Linked DNA regions of Homo sapiens: region 1 is linked to region 2. Evidence: fine-mapped QTL for protein levels in blood plasma. Region 2 holds a variant in brackets. A gene starts in the other region. All regions are shown on their forward strands.

Region 1 (4,998 bases), not on the chromosome of region 2:
AAAAGGGAGAGTGCTCCGCCGGGAGCGGGGAGCGAGTAGGGTGGCGTCTCCAGGGATTTAACCTCCTACCCTCAGTTCCATGACGCCACCCCCTCCCTCCAAAGACTGGGACAGCGCCTCCATTTTTGTTTTGGGGAGGAAGGGCAGGGGCTTGCGGATAGAAGGGGGTCAAAGGAACGGTGATTATCACCTGTGAGGGGAAAGGGGGTGCTGTCCTCCCTCCTTCCCTTTTCCTCAGCCTGCACCCCCTGCAATCCCCCACCTTTCGGGGTCTCCCCCTCCTTGTTGCTAAGGCCCGGACCGTCATCCCAGCAACAGCCTCAGTCATGTGACCGGCAATGGCGGCGCTGACGAGAGGTAGGTGAGCCCGGCGCCCCCCACACCCACCGCGCGCCCCCCGGGCCCCGCTCGCACCCCTCACGCGCCCCCCGCTCCCCCGGCGCCCCCTCCTCCACCTCCCCTCCCCGCGCGCGGCTCCGGGCTCCCCGCTCCGTGCCCGGCCGATCATCTTTCTAGCACCCTCCAGCCTTGGCCTCCATTCGGGGGTTCTGAGGGCTGCGATCGGGCCGACATGCACCCCCACCCGGCGGTGGGGATCCGGGGGCTTTGGCTACTGAGGGATGTGGGGAGTTGGTTCCGGGTCGGGTCTTGGAGGAGGCCGTGGGGGGAGGGCGGGAGCTGCTTCAGTGGATGCCCCCAGGGACCCTTGCCCATCCGGGCTGTGCCTCCCTCTGGCCTCTGTCTGGAGGGAGAGACTGGTTCCTTGTCCGGCCTGGGTTGCCACAGAGGAATCACAGACCCACCCTAAACTGGGGCCCCGCCTCCCTTTTCTGTGCCAGCAGGACTTGGACCTAGGACACCTAGGTCCTGGGTCCCCCGTGATGGGGAGAGAAGTGTTGCATCGCGGATAGACTGTATGGGCTGAGACTCTAGGGTTCCATTTTCACTTATGAATCTCGAGGTGCATCTGGCCTTGGGGGACGATGATGGAGGCATGAAGGGACAGCTGCTCCTTCTTGGATCAGTCAATAAATGGAGGTCACACTAATGGCCCTTCTTTCTGTTTGAGCTGCATTTGGAAGTGTTGTGGAGACAGCCCCGTAGCCCAATGCGACCAGACTCAGGGAAAACATCAGGCCCCTCCAGCTGAGCCCTTGTGTGAGCCCCGCCCCTCCCTAAATGCCAGACTTGGGAGCTGACAGACAGCACTGCCTGTGCTGGGTTTAAAAGGTGACAATGAGAACTTTGTTATTGCAGGGGCTGCTGCCACTTTGTTCACATCCTTAACAGACTTCAGCAGAAGGGACTGAGTTAGCTCTCAAGGAAGGCTCCCTGGCAATAGGGGCTGAATTATTTGGCAATGTGGAGCAGGCGAGGAGTTGGGGAGCATAGGAAATATTCCGGTCCATGTGATCTGAGGGAGGTGGCAAGAAGACCTCCACCTGTGTGGGCGTTTTCTTTCCTGACTTCTCTTATGTGTGCCCTAGGCTTTCTTGGGGGCCTCAGAGCTGGGGAAGAAAGGAGGAAGGTTAGCATGTTGAAGTTCCTTCTTGAGCAACTTGGGGAGAAGCTGATAATGGAATTCTGCAGAGAAGAGAGGAGATGGAAGGGGAGTTTTTATTTCTGGGTTGGCTGAGGGGAATGGTAACATTTGCCATCATAACTTTTTACCCTTCCCCCACTCCCAGTCCTGGTCAGCTGAGTGGAAATAGAAGGATTTCTGCTGCCATCATCTTCCATGGGCTTTCCAGGTATCTCCCCCGCAAGGGATCCTCAATTTTCACCCTTAAACTGGTTTCCTTCATTCCATGTTCCAAGTAATGCCATTCTTAGTAACCTATACCCAGGTTTCTGTCTCTGTTCCATGGGCTGCTGGGTTGGGGGCCATGGGAATTGGGAGAAGGGGTTTCTCACTTTCCTTCCATTTTTCCGCCCTACCAGGTCACACGACCTACAAGTAGGGAGCAGGGAAAGAAGAGTGAGCCTGCATGCCAATTCTAAGCTCTTCAGGATCAAAGTAAGCAAAAAGGAGGGGCAAAGAGTCTCCCTCCCCTTTAAACAGCCCATTTTTCCCCAAGAGGTGGGAGGGGCAAGTTGTTTCTATGATCTGGGAGAAATGACAGGAGAAACAAGACTGATACTTGGCTTAGATGATAATATAGCTCTGGAAACTTTTTTGCTCTTCAGTGGGTTTTGGGTTTGGAAGATAAGGGGAGACAGAATATGAATTTGGGTGAAGGGTTGGGGATTAGGCTTTGAGAAAACAGAGGTAATAGAGGGTTTGGAAGGAACCTGAAGTAGGAGGCACTGATACTTGTCAAATGGGGACCCCCCACCCTGAGTCCCTTTCACCCTGGGGGCAGTGTCGTTCGTCCTGTCCAGAATGGCAGCCTGTGGAGGCACCTGCAAGAACAAAGTGACTGTGTCCAAGCCCGTGTGGGACTTCCTGAGCAAAGAGACCCCAGCCCGGCTGGCCCGGCTTCGGGAGGAGCACCGTGTGTCCATCCTCATAGATGGCGAGACTTCTGACATCTATGTTCTCCAGCTTTCCCCACAGGGTCCTCCCCCGGCCCCTCCAAATGGGCTCTACCTAGCCCGGAAGGCTCTCAAGGGGCTGCTAAAAGAGGCAGAGAAAGAGCTGAAGAAAGCTCAGAGGCAGGGGGAGCTGATGGGCTGCCTGGCTCTGGGGGGTGGAGGGGAGCACCCTGAGATGCACCGCGCAGGCCCACCCCCTCTCCGAGCAGCCCCACTTCTGCCCCCAGGAGCTCGGGGGCTCCCCCCTCCTCCTCCCCCCCTGCCCCCACCTCTTCCTCCTCGCCTTCGGGAGGAGGCAGAAGAGCAGGAGAGCACCTGCCCCATCTGTCTGGGGGAGATCCAGAATGCCAAGACATTGGAGAAGTGCCGGCATTCATTCTGCGAGGGCTGCATCACCCGGGCTCTGCAGGTGAAAAAGGCCTGCCCCATGTGCGGCCGCTTCTATGGGCAGCTGGTGGGCAACCAGCCCCAGAATGGGCGGATGCTGGTCTCTAAGGACGCCACCCTCCTACTGCCCAGCTATGAGAAGTACGGCACCATTGTCATCCAGTACGTCTTCCCGCCCGGTGTCCAGGGGGTAAGAAGACCATGGCCTGCCCTTACCCTTTGGCTTTCCCCAAGCTCTGACCTAGGAAAACCGGGTGAGGGTGAGTGTGCTTGTTAGATGTGAGACAGTCTTGCTGTCTTCCACTGTGCCCTCCTACTCAGTGCCCTGGACCTAGGAGGTCCCCGTGAGGCCCAGCCTTTCCATCCCTGTGATCCCAAGGCACACGTGAAAATCAGATATGAGCTAGGAAAAAAAAAAGCAAATCAGATATGAGAGGAAGGAATTGCATATTATTTCCTTGATGAACACAAATACTGTGCTGACATCTTGGCAGAGGTAAATTCTGTGGAGGTGGTGGCTTAGGGGAAGGGAGGCACAATAGGAAGGGATCTGACCAACCCAACAGAGCCAGGAGCATCACTCTGTAAAAACAGGAGTAGTCAAGGCCTATAGGTGTCTTCCTGCTGGACAAAGAGTAATGTGCAATTCTGGCTGCAGAGGGGTGAAGAAGCTGCACAGAAGAGTGATGGAAAATGGAACAAGTTAGACAGTGGCAGAAACATTAGGAGTATTTTCAGGTGAAGGGAAGGCTGAAAGATAGATTATTCTGTCTTCACATTTTTGCTGAGTTGTCTGGAGTGTAGGGACCAGCTAACTTCCATCACTTCTGAGAATCCATTTGTTGCTGAATGGAGACTTGAGGGATTGAGACAGCAGAAAAAATCTCTTAACACATAAGGATTATGCTCTGAAACAGGCTCTTGCTGCCGAGGCCGTATAATCTCTCCTTCTGTGGAAAGCTGTCAGCCTGTTGCTGCCCCGTTCGCATTAGCTGGGGGTGCTCAGACAGAGACTAGCCTGGATGACCCTCCTCTGGCATCTGGGCCTTAGGATGCCTGGCTGCTCACTGCCCACTCTGCTTCACCTTCCTCCCAGGCTGAACACCCAAACCCAGGAGTTCGGTATCCTGGCACCACACGGGTGGCCTACCTCCCGGACTGCCCTGAGGGCAACAAGGTGCTGACCCTGTTCCGCAAGGCGTTTGACCAGCGTCTCACCTTCACTATCGGCACGTCCATGACCACAGGGAGACCGAATGTCATCACCTGGAACGACATCCACCACAAGACCAGCTGCACAGGGGGACCCCAGCTGTGCGACCCCTCTTCATTTCCTTTCCCTTGGCTCCTCCCCTTTGTTCCATTTCCACTGAGGGACCCACCAACCCCTCGCTCACGGAGCCTCCTAACTGGAGAGAACCACTTCCAAACTGTTCAGCCATCTCAGTTTCTCCTACATTCAACCTGGTCCTGGTGTGCCCAGCTTAGCCTACAAAAATAAGCAGAACTGGGCTAAATTATCTTGGATTTGGAGGTGTCCTCCCTTAGGGGAGGTGGGGAGGTGTCTGAGCCACCTAGAATGAGGGTGAGCATGGGGATAATAGCAAGTTCAAACAGCTAACAACCCTCACCCTCATTTCTCTTTGCTCCCAGGTTTGGGTACCCAGACCCCACCTACCTGACCCGGGTGCAAGAGGAGCTGAGAGCGAAGGGTATCACAGATGACTGAAGGACATCGCCTTTGCCAAGGCCCCTGCTGTCTGCCTCTACTAGGACCCAGCAGAAGCCTCTTTCTCCTCTCTGCCCCCTGCCCCCCACACCACACCTGTAGGGGACCTGTCTGACTGGGAAGGGAGTTCCGAGAGGGAGGGGGCAATCCCTTCCCCCATCCCCCACTGGCCAAGTGTTTCAATGCAGTGTGAGCCACTCCCTTCTGGCAGAGGCCGACCTCCAAGGCTCTGTTCTCCCCTCCCCGTGTACATATACTCCCGGTTTCCCTGCCCCTCCATTGCCCTTGGCTTTTTCTGGTATGTGCTGTGCTCCACGACCAAGCCGAGAAAGGACCTAGGGTGGGGA
Region 2 (8,625 bases):
CAATCCAGATTCACTCACTGCATGTGCCTGTTATCACCAGTGATCTTTCAACAAATGGTAAAGCTTCTCTGAGCTCCTTTACCAAAAGCGCATCCTGTCAGTTAAGCTGAAGTTCAGAGATGAAGCACCAACAGCCCCATCCTCGAGAGCCGGATCCTGGGAGCTTTAAATCTCATTTTCCAAAGCTAGGCAGCAGTGAGAGGTCTGGGTGCCAAGCCCCCTCTAGCTCTTGTGATCCTCCCTCATACATGGACTCAACCCCCAAATCCTCCCCACCGTCCTCAGCCCCATACCTCCTGGCTCATGCGGAAGGGGGTTGGAGGCCCAAGCCTTCATAGCCCTGACTTGAACTCAACCTCTTACTCCTCCCTTTTATCTAATCCTGCAGGTTGAAAGTAACGGAAGCCTACAGAAACTGATCCGCATCCGAAATCCCTGGGGAGAAGTGGAGTGGACAGGGCGGTGGAATGACAAGTGAGGAGGGCGCAGGCCTCGGGGCCCCAGGCGGGGGTGCATTGTGCTGGGAGGCTCTGGGAAGAGGGCGAGAGAAGAAGACATGTGCATTATTCTGAGAAATATAGCCAGGAGAGCCCAGGCCACGTGGACAGGGACCCGTGGACAGGGGCCCCTCAAAGGGTCTTTTAACCAGGACACTCCTCCAGCAGCCTGAGTGCCTTCTTCCAGGCCCCAAGCTGCTCGTGTGAAGTTCATTCCTGCCACTGCCTCCAGGTTCACCCCTTCCCTAGCTCAAATCCACCCTTCTATGGGGCTTTCAGGGAAAAAAATACACCCCACCTTCCCCCAGGCACTTCTATTACAGGGATGTGAACTTTGTACCAAAGGCCAGAGAAACATCCCTCTGTTGATTTCCAGGGCTTACTGGTAGGCATGTTGAACCCTCAACTATTTGGGGTAAACACTTGTTTGTACATCTGCTGTGGCAACCTCAGCCTACTTGCTCTGCCTCAGGTTGGAGAGGTGGGCAGTACAGAGGCCTGTGTGTAATTCCAGCCAAAGCTCAGGCAGTGGTTAGTTTACCCTGTGCACTGCCCCTGTGTACAGGGCCAGGTCCTTCTGCTCCGTGGACAGAGAGACACCTGCTGAGGCTTCCCAGGCCTCAGCCGGAGGCTCCTCATCAGATCTTCAGTTGTCTCTAAAAGAGCTGCCAGGCCCATCTCAATTGGGCAACTGCTCTGAGCTACTCCATCTCCCTCTAATGAACTATGTTCATTTTCTGGACTCTTCCTTGCCACTGTCTTCCAGCACAACTCACCCGCTCACTTTGCTCCCTGGTTTGCATCTGTATAGTGTTCTATACTCTTTAAAGTGCTGTAAGAGTATTAAAATGCAGCTGTTAGCCAGATGTGGGCTACTTTCCCCCTTTCTGGAGCCTGAGCCCTCAGAGGTGAGAGCAGATGTCCCTCTTCCTCAACTCTGGGGCCTTTGGGGAGAAATCATCGTACACTAACGCCTCTCTCTTTACTTTGTTTTCCAGCTGCCCAAGCTGGAACACTATAGACCCAGAGGAGAGGGAAAGGCTGACCAGACGGCATGAAGATGGAGAATTCTGGTAAGATTAGTGGAGGCTTCAGGGAAAGCTCTGTCTGCCCCAATGTTCTTTACTAGAAAACTGCTAATTAGAAAGAGTGTCGGCCAAAGTGAGTTTACCATGTCGAGGACACAAGCGTGTGGGATCCTGGTTTTGTTATTTTAAGTTCACTATAAGAGCCTGAATAAAGAAATTCTTAAGCCCCTTCAACGGTCCATCTTGACAATGGGGTTTATAAGCTGAGCAGCTTCAGAAAAAGGCTAAGAGGAATTCCTTTGGTAATGTTCAGATCCCAGGAAACAAGGGAAAGATGGGGCCTTTCTCCCCCAGGTTCCGGAGACTCATCCCAGCCCCTTAAGAAACTGGTCCCTTAGTGAGCAGCAATGGACCCACATGTCTGTGTGTCTGCGCCACTCTATAACCACCTGCACCTGGACACAACATGCTCTTTATCAAATGGGGCCCATATATTGTCACATTTGATGGGCACGGCTCCCATTTTTGCAGGTGAGAGTTCTGAGCTTCAGAGAAGTTTAAGTAACCTGCTCAAAGTCACCCAGCTAGAAAGTTGCAGCGCCAGGACTGGAATCTGGGCCTTCTGATTCTGAACCTGGTGCCCATCCACTCAGTTCTAATGAGCTGCTCTGCCTGGCTTTGGGTGGCTCCTGGTCTGGTGTTGGTGGAAAGTCAAGGCTTACCAGTGTGTCTTCTTATCACCTGTGATGATTGTCTCTGCTTTTGCCAGGATGTCTTTCAGTGACTTCCTGAGGCACTATTCCCGCCTGGAGATCTGTAACCTGACCCCAGACACTCTCACCAGCGATACCTACAAGAAGTGGAAACTCACCAAAATGGATGGGAACTGGAGGCGGGGCTCCACCG[C/T]GGGAGGTTGCAGGAACTACCCGAGTAAGGGCTGTTGCATATAAGGGCTGTTGCAATGCGGGGCCACCAAAGGCCAAAGCTCCCCTTACCCCACCCTGTGTACCACACCCCAGCCTAGCAGCCCCAGGAGGCAGCTCCTGCTCACTGGAACCCTCTCTGTCTTCTTTCTCCCTGAGCCTTTTCTTTTCCCTGAGCCTTTTCTCCCCGAGCTCTCTTTCTCAATCCCTTACCTCCTGCCCTACCCAGGACAAACCCAAGAGCCACTGTTTCTGTGATGTCCTCTCCAGGCCCTAGATTCCCCAGCGCCCATCATGACCTTCAGCCTGACCTTCCGCCATGCTCACGGAAGCAGTGCTCAATCCCACTTCACGGCCATGAGCTGCTCTATGCACCCCACACCCAGGCAGCCGAGCCTACAAGGGAACCTTGTCCCGGCACCCAGGGAGCCCTCCACATATCAGGCCCTGTTTGTTGCCCCATACTCACTTCAATCAGCAAATGTTGACTGGGCGCTGCCCAGATGGGGTGAAGATTTCTCCTCTGGTCCAGCCTTTGTTGAGCCCCTTGATTCTTCTGCCTTCATGGCTTAGTCCGTCAGCAGTTGTCTGAACATGATGACATCTGCCAATTATGGGGCACACCTTCAGTGCTTGGAACTATCCTAAGTGTTTTGTACACAGGGTGAGGATCCATAATCTGAAAATGTGAAATCTGAAATGCTCCAAAATCCAAAACTTTTTCAGCCCCAACATGATACCACAGGTGGAAAATTCGACACTTGACCTCAGGTGACAGGTCGCAGTCAAAACACAGTCAAAACTTTGTTTCATGCACAAAATTATTTTAAATATGCTATAGAATTACCTTCAGCCTATGTGTATAAATTATATATGAAACAGAAATGAGTTTTGTCATTAGACTTGAGTTCCATCCCTAAGATATGTTATGTATATACAAATATTCCAAAATCCAAAAAAATCCAAAATAGGAAACACTTCTGGCCCCAGGAATTTCAGATAAGGGATATTCAGCCTGCATAACATTCTATCTAACCTTCCCAACAAACTTCTGAGGCAGGCACTTTCTTATCACCTCCATCTCTAAGATGAGGAAACTGAGGCTTGGAGAGGCTAGTGACTTGCTGAAGGCCACAGAGCGTGCTGGGATTTGAACCCAGGCCCCCTGACTGAGGAGTCACTGTGTAAGTACAGTGGCAGCAGATCATGGTCACATAGTGATTCTCTGTGACAGATGAGGAAGCTGAGCCTCTAAGTCGCATACCAGGGCCACAGAGCAAGTAGTCAGACTGCGGCTAGCTGGCCTACAGTTCTGGGGCTCGGACTCCTTCACCTCAAGTATGCAGCCACCAAGTGGCAGTCCCAGAGGCGCTGGGAAGGCCCTCTGCCCCCCACAAGGGACCCCTCCTACCCACTAGATCAGGAGTCGGAAAACTCCCTCTAAAGGGTCAGATAGTAAATAATTTTGGCTTTGTGGGCCACTCAGTCTCTATAACAACAACTCTATTGCTATAACCCAAAGGCAGCCATACTTAAGCGAATGGCCGTGGCTACGTTCCAATAAAACGTTATTTACAAAAACAGGCAGCGGCCTTCGGAGCCATAGCTGCCAACCCCTACACAAGATGGTGCCTGTAATTTCACAGTTAGGGTTTTATCCCATTAGGTATGGAAAGGCAATTAGCATAATTCCCCTTAAACATGAATGAATCTTAGATTTTTTAAATAAATAGGTTTTGGAAGTAAAGAGGGCAGAGACATCAGGAGCAGGGCAAGGGAATAGGCCTGAGAGGACAAGGGACGCAGAACAAGAAAGAGTCTGGAATTATACACAGGATGTTCTTGGCCTCCGGGCTCACCGAGGGGGCGGCGACCGGCAAGTGCAGGGAGCAGATCCCGGAGTCCCCCAGGCCAGCCGAGCCCCGCCCCAGGCTCCCCATCAGAGCCCAGTGAAGAGAAGGTACCATGAGGGGAAGCCACAGCTCTAACCACCCTGCGTTCCAGAGTGACAGACCAGTCCCCAAGACAAGCCAGCCTGGAGCCAGAGAGAGAACTGCAAGAGAAAGTTTCTAATTTAGGTTCCTGTTAGATTCAGACAAGTGCAGGTCATCCTCTCTCCACAGCTACCGTCACCCGTCTCCAGCCTAACAAAGCCTGCAGTCCACACTCCAACCCTGGTGTCTCCCACCTCCTAGCCTCTCCCAACATCGCCTGCCGTCTCTGACCATCTTCTGCCATCCTCTGCCATCTCCCACCATCTCCCACTGTCTCCCACAGCCTCCCACCGCCTCTTGCCAACTCCCACCATCTCCCGCCATTTTCTGACATCTCCCGCTGTCTCCCACCATCTTCTGCCATACTCTGCCATCTCCCACCATCCCCCACCACCTCTTACCATCTCCCACCACCTCCCACCATCTCCCTTTATCTCCATCCCTCTCAGAAGCCTCCAAGCCTGAGACCAGGGCCACCCCCCACCCCCATGCATTCCTGCTCAGGGCTGGGCTCCTCTGCCCCTTTCTGGCTGCAGACACATTCTGGATGAACCCTCAGTACCTGATCAAGCTGGAGGAGGAGGATGAGGACGAGGAGGATGGGGAGAGCGGCTGCACCTTCCTGGTGGGGCTCATTCAGAAGCACCGACGGCGGCAGAGGAAGATGGGCGAGGACATGCACACCATCGGCTTTGGCATCTATGAGGTGCAGAGCGCAGGGGCTCCTGCCCTCCCTTCCCCATGTGTTCATCTCAGCCCCTGCATGGAAAGCTGACCCCAGAGGCAGAACTGGGGATGGGATCCCAGACCGGGAGCTTGGCCAAGGAAAAACAAAACTACCAGCCTGGCCAGGCTCAGGAGTAGCCCCCGTAGGGAGGCCCCTGCAGTGGCTCTGGGTTGTGGGGCCTTCTAAGCCCTTCACGGGCCCCCCACAGCCAGCCTGCAGGGAGTTCCACTCTCAAATGGCCTCCACATCCCTTCTCACATCCTCCAGGCCTGGCATTCTGGTCAGCCTACCCATCTTCAAAGAACAGAATATACTGGGCCACATCAGGCAATACTGTGAGGGCAGGACTGAGTCCATGGGTGCAGCTGCTCAGAGCTCGGCAAAGTCATTGGCCTGGATGGTGGAGAGCTTGGGGACAGGGGAACATTGGTCATGATGCTCCCCCCAGGGCTCTGATGGCTGGAGCCCAGATCCCTACACAGACTCCTGCTGTATGCGTGTTTTCCTTTCACTCTGAGCCACAGCCAGAGGGCAGCCGCATTGCAGTCTCCTCTCCGCCCTCAGGCTGGGGCTGGGGCACTGAGAACTCACCCAACACGCTGGGCCCCTGGGCTCTCCCCACTCCCTTCTGCAAAACAAGAAAGAGCTTTCGTGGGCTGCAGGTAGCCATGCGAGGAGAGGGATGAAAGGAAGGCTTTAGGGCACTGACTGGGGATGCATTTCGGTTTGATGGGCTGGAGCTGGCTCCTCCCGGCTCCCAAAGCCCATCTCTTTTCTCTGACCCATGTCTGCTGAGGTCCTTCAGCAGCCTGAAAAATGGCCCTGGCAGGGACCTGTTTACACCATGGAAAGTGGCAAATAGTACAAATCAGAGCTTCCACCCTCTCCCAAGAGCCAGTTTCCCAGCACACCCCTGGGAGAATCCAGACGAGGTGTCAGGAGAGGAGGCTCTGTGCTCACCACTGGCAACGTTGCCACCCATGGAACACTGACTTCTACCTGCTCACCCACCTGAGAAAGGCAGCTGGGCAAATACCATCAGTTGTAAAAATGCACATAGGCCTAAACCCCTCCGTCTCTGAAACAGGAGCTGAGGACTTCGGATCTGGGACAGAATCGATCCAAGGACAATGCAAATGGAATTGTGATACACAGCTTCCCTCCCACCGGCTTATGGGCTTGGAAATGCAGCCACGGGCTTTCAGAGTTGGGACGGACCTTGGGGATCACTGGGTCCTATTTTTGAGACAAGAAAACTGAGGCCAGAGAGGAGAGGGGACTTGCTCAAGGAAATGCAGACCGGACCACTGGACCTGGCTGACAGAGGCCGGCACTGCTGGCTCCTAGCCCCAGGTGTATTTCACCTCGCCTGCTGCCTCCTCCAACAGGGCCCGCCTGGCCCTCTTTCCCTGCGTGGGAGGCCGATATGGGCTTTGCCACCTTAGACAAGTCTCTTCACATCTCCATGCCTGAGATTTATACTCTAAGTTAGGAAGGGAGGTGAGGGCTTATCAACATAAGAGGATTTTCTTCAGTGTTGGAGAGGCTTTGAGTTCCTTGGAAAACAGTTACTCGGTTGAATTAGTTGATATTGCTAATGCTACAGAGAAAACGGGGGCAGCGGAAGAGAAGAGCACAGTGATGCATTTTCTTACACTGCTTTTCCGGCATCTGAATTGCATCTCCTTTATTTTGCAGGTTCCAGAGGAGGTACGTCTGGCCCATGTCCCGGGGTGCTCAGGTCACCAAAAAAGCGAGAGGCTTAGACTGCTGGAGCTCAGGGAGCGTCGTGAAGCCCGGGCAGGGGCTGGTGGTCATGAAGGATGAGTCCTGGCCACCCCTGGGGCCCTGCTGAAGTTGCCCAGGCTCTAGATCCCACTGGTCTAAGCTCTGGGCAAGGTTTCTGGAAAGTCCTTGTGGGACCCGCTGCCTCCCTGTGACCTGGCAGAGCCCATACAGGGTTTGGTTCTGGGCAGAAAATCCATGATCCTGAGACTGCAGGAGGCTTTTCACAAAGTTCTTTGTCACTCTTAGGAGAAGACTGAGTCAGGGAAAAGGTGAACCCTGCAGACTGTACTAGAAGACAACGCGGGAGCACAGAGGAGACCAGGACCCAATTCCCAGGCTGTGTGACCTTGGACACGTTACAGCTCCTCTCTGCATTTCAGGGTTTTGTTTTTTTTTTTTTTGATTTTTGGTTTGTTTGTTTGTTTTTTGTCTCGCTCTTTCACCCAGGATGAAGTGCAGTGGCATGATCTCGACTCACTGCAACCTCTACCTCCTGGGTTCAAGTGATTCTCCTGCTTCAGCCTCCCCAGTAGCTGGGACTACAGGCACGCACCAGGATGCCAGGCCAATTTTTGTATTTTTAGTAGAGACGGGGTTTCACCATGGTGGCCAGGCTGGTCTTGAACTCCTGACCTCAGGTGATCCACCCCCTTCAGCCTCCCAAAGTGCTAGGATTACAGGTGTAGCCACCGTGCCTGGCTGCATTTCAGTTTATTTTTCAGTAAAACTGGTCAACCATCCACCTCACTGCACTACCGTGGAATGACTTAAATTTTGCGAGAGCATTTGGGCCCACAGTCACCGCTTGCTGAAGCAGATGGGATGCCTGGTCCAAGGTCACGATTATTAAAGTAGACACACGGGGCACTTTGACCCACCTGTAGTACATTTCTTTCACAGCAAGGCAGTGCAACCGGTAGCACATCGGGCTCTTTTAGATGCTGCTCCAGCCTTGGTCCGGTGGATCATGCTTGGTTTAGAAGCTGGGTTGTCTTTCTCCTGCCCCCAGTCCTGTCTTTGCTTTTATAGTGCATCATACACCACGTAGAACCGAGCCAGGTTCCTGCCATGTGGACGCTGTTCCTGCCTGAGAGTCTCTTAGAGGAAGGCTGGGAACACTGTGGAAAGACTGGGCATCTCTGCAGGCGGAGCTGAATGGATGTGAAACCCCTGTGGGCATGTGCTTCCGAGTTCCTCAGCAGGCATTTGTGTTTTTTGGTAGAAAGTTTGCTTTTTGTTTTTTTTTTTTTTAAGACAAGGTCTCATTCTGTCACCCAGGCTAGAGTACAGTGGTGTGATCATAGCTCACTGCCGTCCTTGAACTCTCAGACTCACGTGAGCCTCCTACCTCAGCCTCCTGAGTAGCTGAGACTACAGGCGCTTGCCGCCACCCCTGGCTAATATTTTTATTTTTTGCAGAGACAGGGGTCTCACTACATTGCCCAGGCTGGTCTCAAACTCCTGGCCTCGAGCAATCCTCTCACAGCCTCCCAAAGTGCTGGTATTACAGGCGTGAGCCACCACACCTAACAAAAGTTTGCTTTTTATCTAAAATGACCCAGGCATTGTCACTGTACTGCTATTTTTTTAAAAAAATTTTGTTGTTTTGTTGTTGTTGTCGTCGTTATATAGATGAGGGCTTCCTGTGTTGCCCAGGCTGGTTTCTGA

Which allele goes with the higher level. Alleles are on the strand shown, and positions count from the first base shown. The strength of an association depends on the size of the effect and on how common the allele is.
As copies of C replace T in region 2, the plasma level of the protein whose gene starts at base 323 in region 1 goes up (moderate association).

The links. PIP is the posterior inclusion probability: the model's chance that the variant is causal. Protein levels are from antibody-based Olink assays in UK Biobank. Linkage for the fine-mapping came from a reference panel and not from the study's own genotypes, which makes the PIPs less certain.
Region 1: it holds the start of DTX3, and the variant in region 2 is fine-mapped to the plasma level of the DTX3 protein (UK Biobank, PIP above 0.99).

The regions. Positions count from the first base shown.
Region 1 is chr12:57,604,502-57,609,499 of GRCh38, forward strand. DTX3 (deltex E3 ubiquitin ligase 3) reads left to right here and starts at 323. Exons shown (of 7, transcript NM_178502.4): 1 at 323-357; 2 at 1,070-1,230; 3 at 1,689-1,751; 4 at 1,942-2,017; 5 at 2,364-3,112; 6 at 4,019-4,236; 7 at 4,576-4,998. The coding sequence starts at 2,017. The coding sequence ends at 4,651. RefSeq lists enhancers at 1-204, 205-717.
Region 2 is chr1:223,750,502-223,759,126 of GRCh38, forward strand. It overlaps CAPN2 (calpain 2), which reads left to right. Exons shown (of 21, transcript NM_001748.5): 7 at 389-474; 8 at 1,496-1,570; 9 at 2,295-2,455; 10 at 4,979-5,148; 11 at 6,868-6,879. Among named protein-coding and RNA genes, the nearest start is that of CAPN2, 42 kb to the left of the region's middle. RefSeq lists a silencer at 746-1,040 and an enhancer at 1,744-2,943. The variant C/T (reference allele first, on the strand shown) is at 2,432.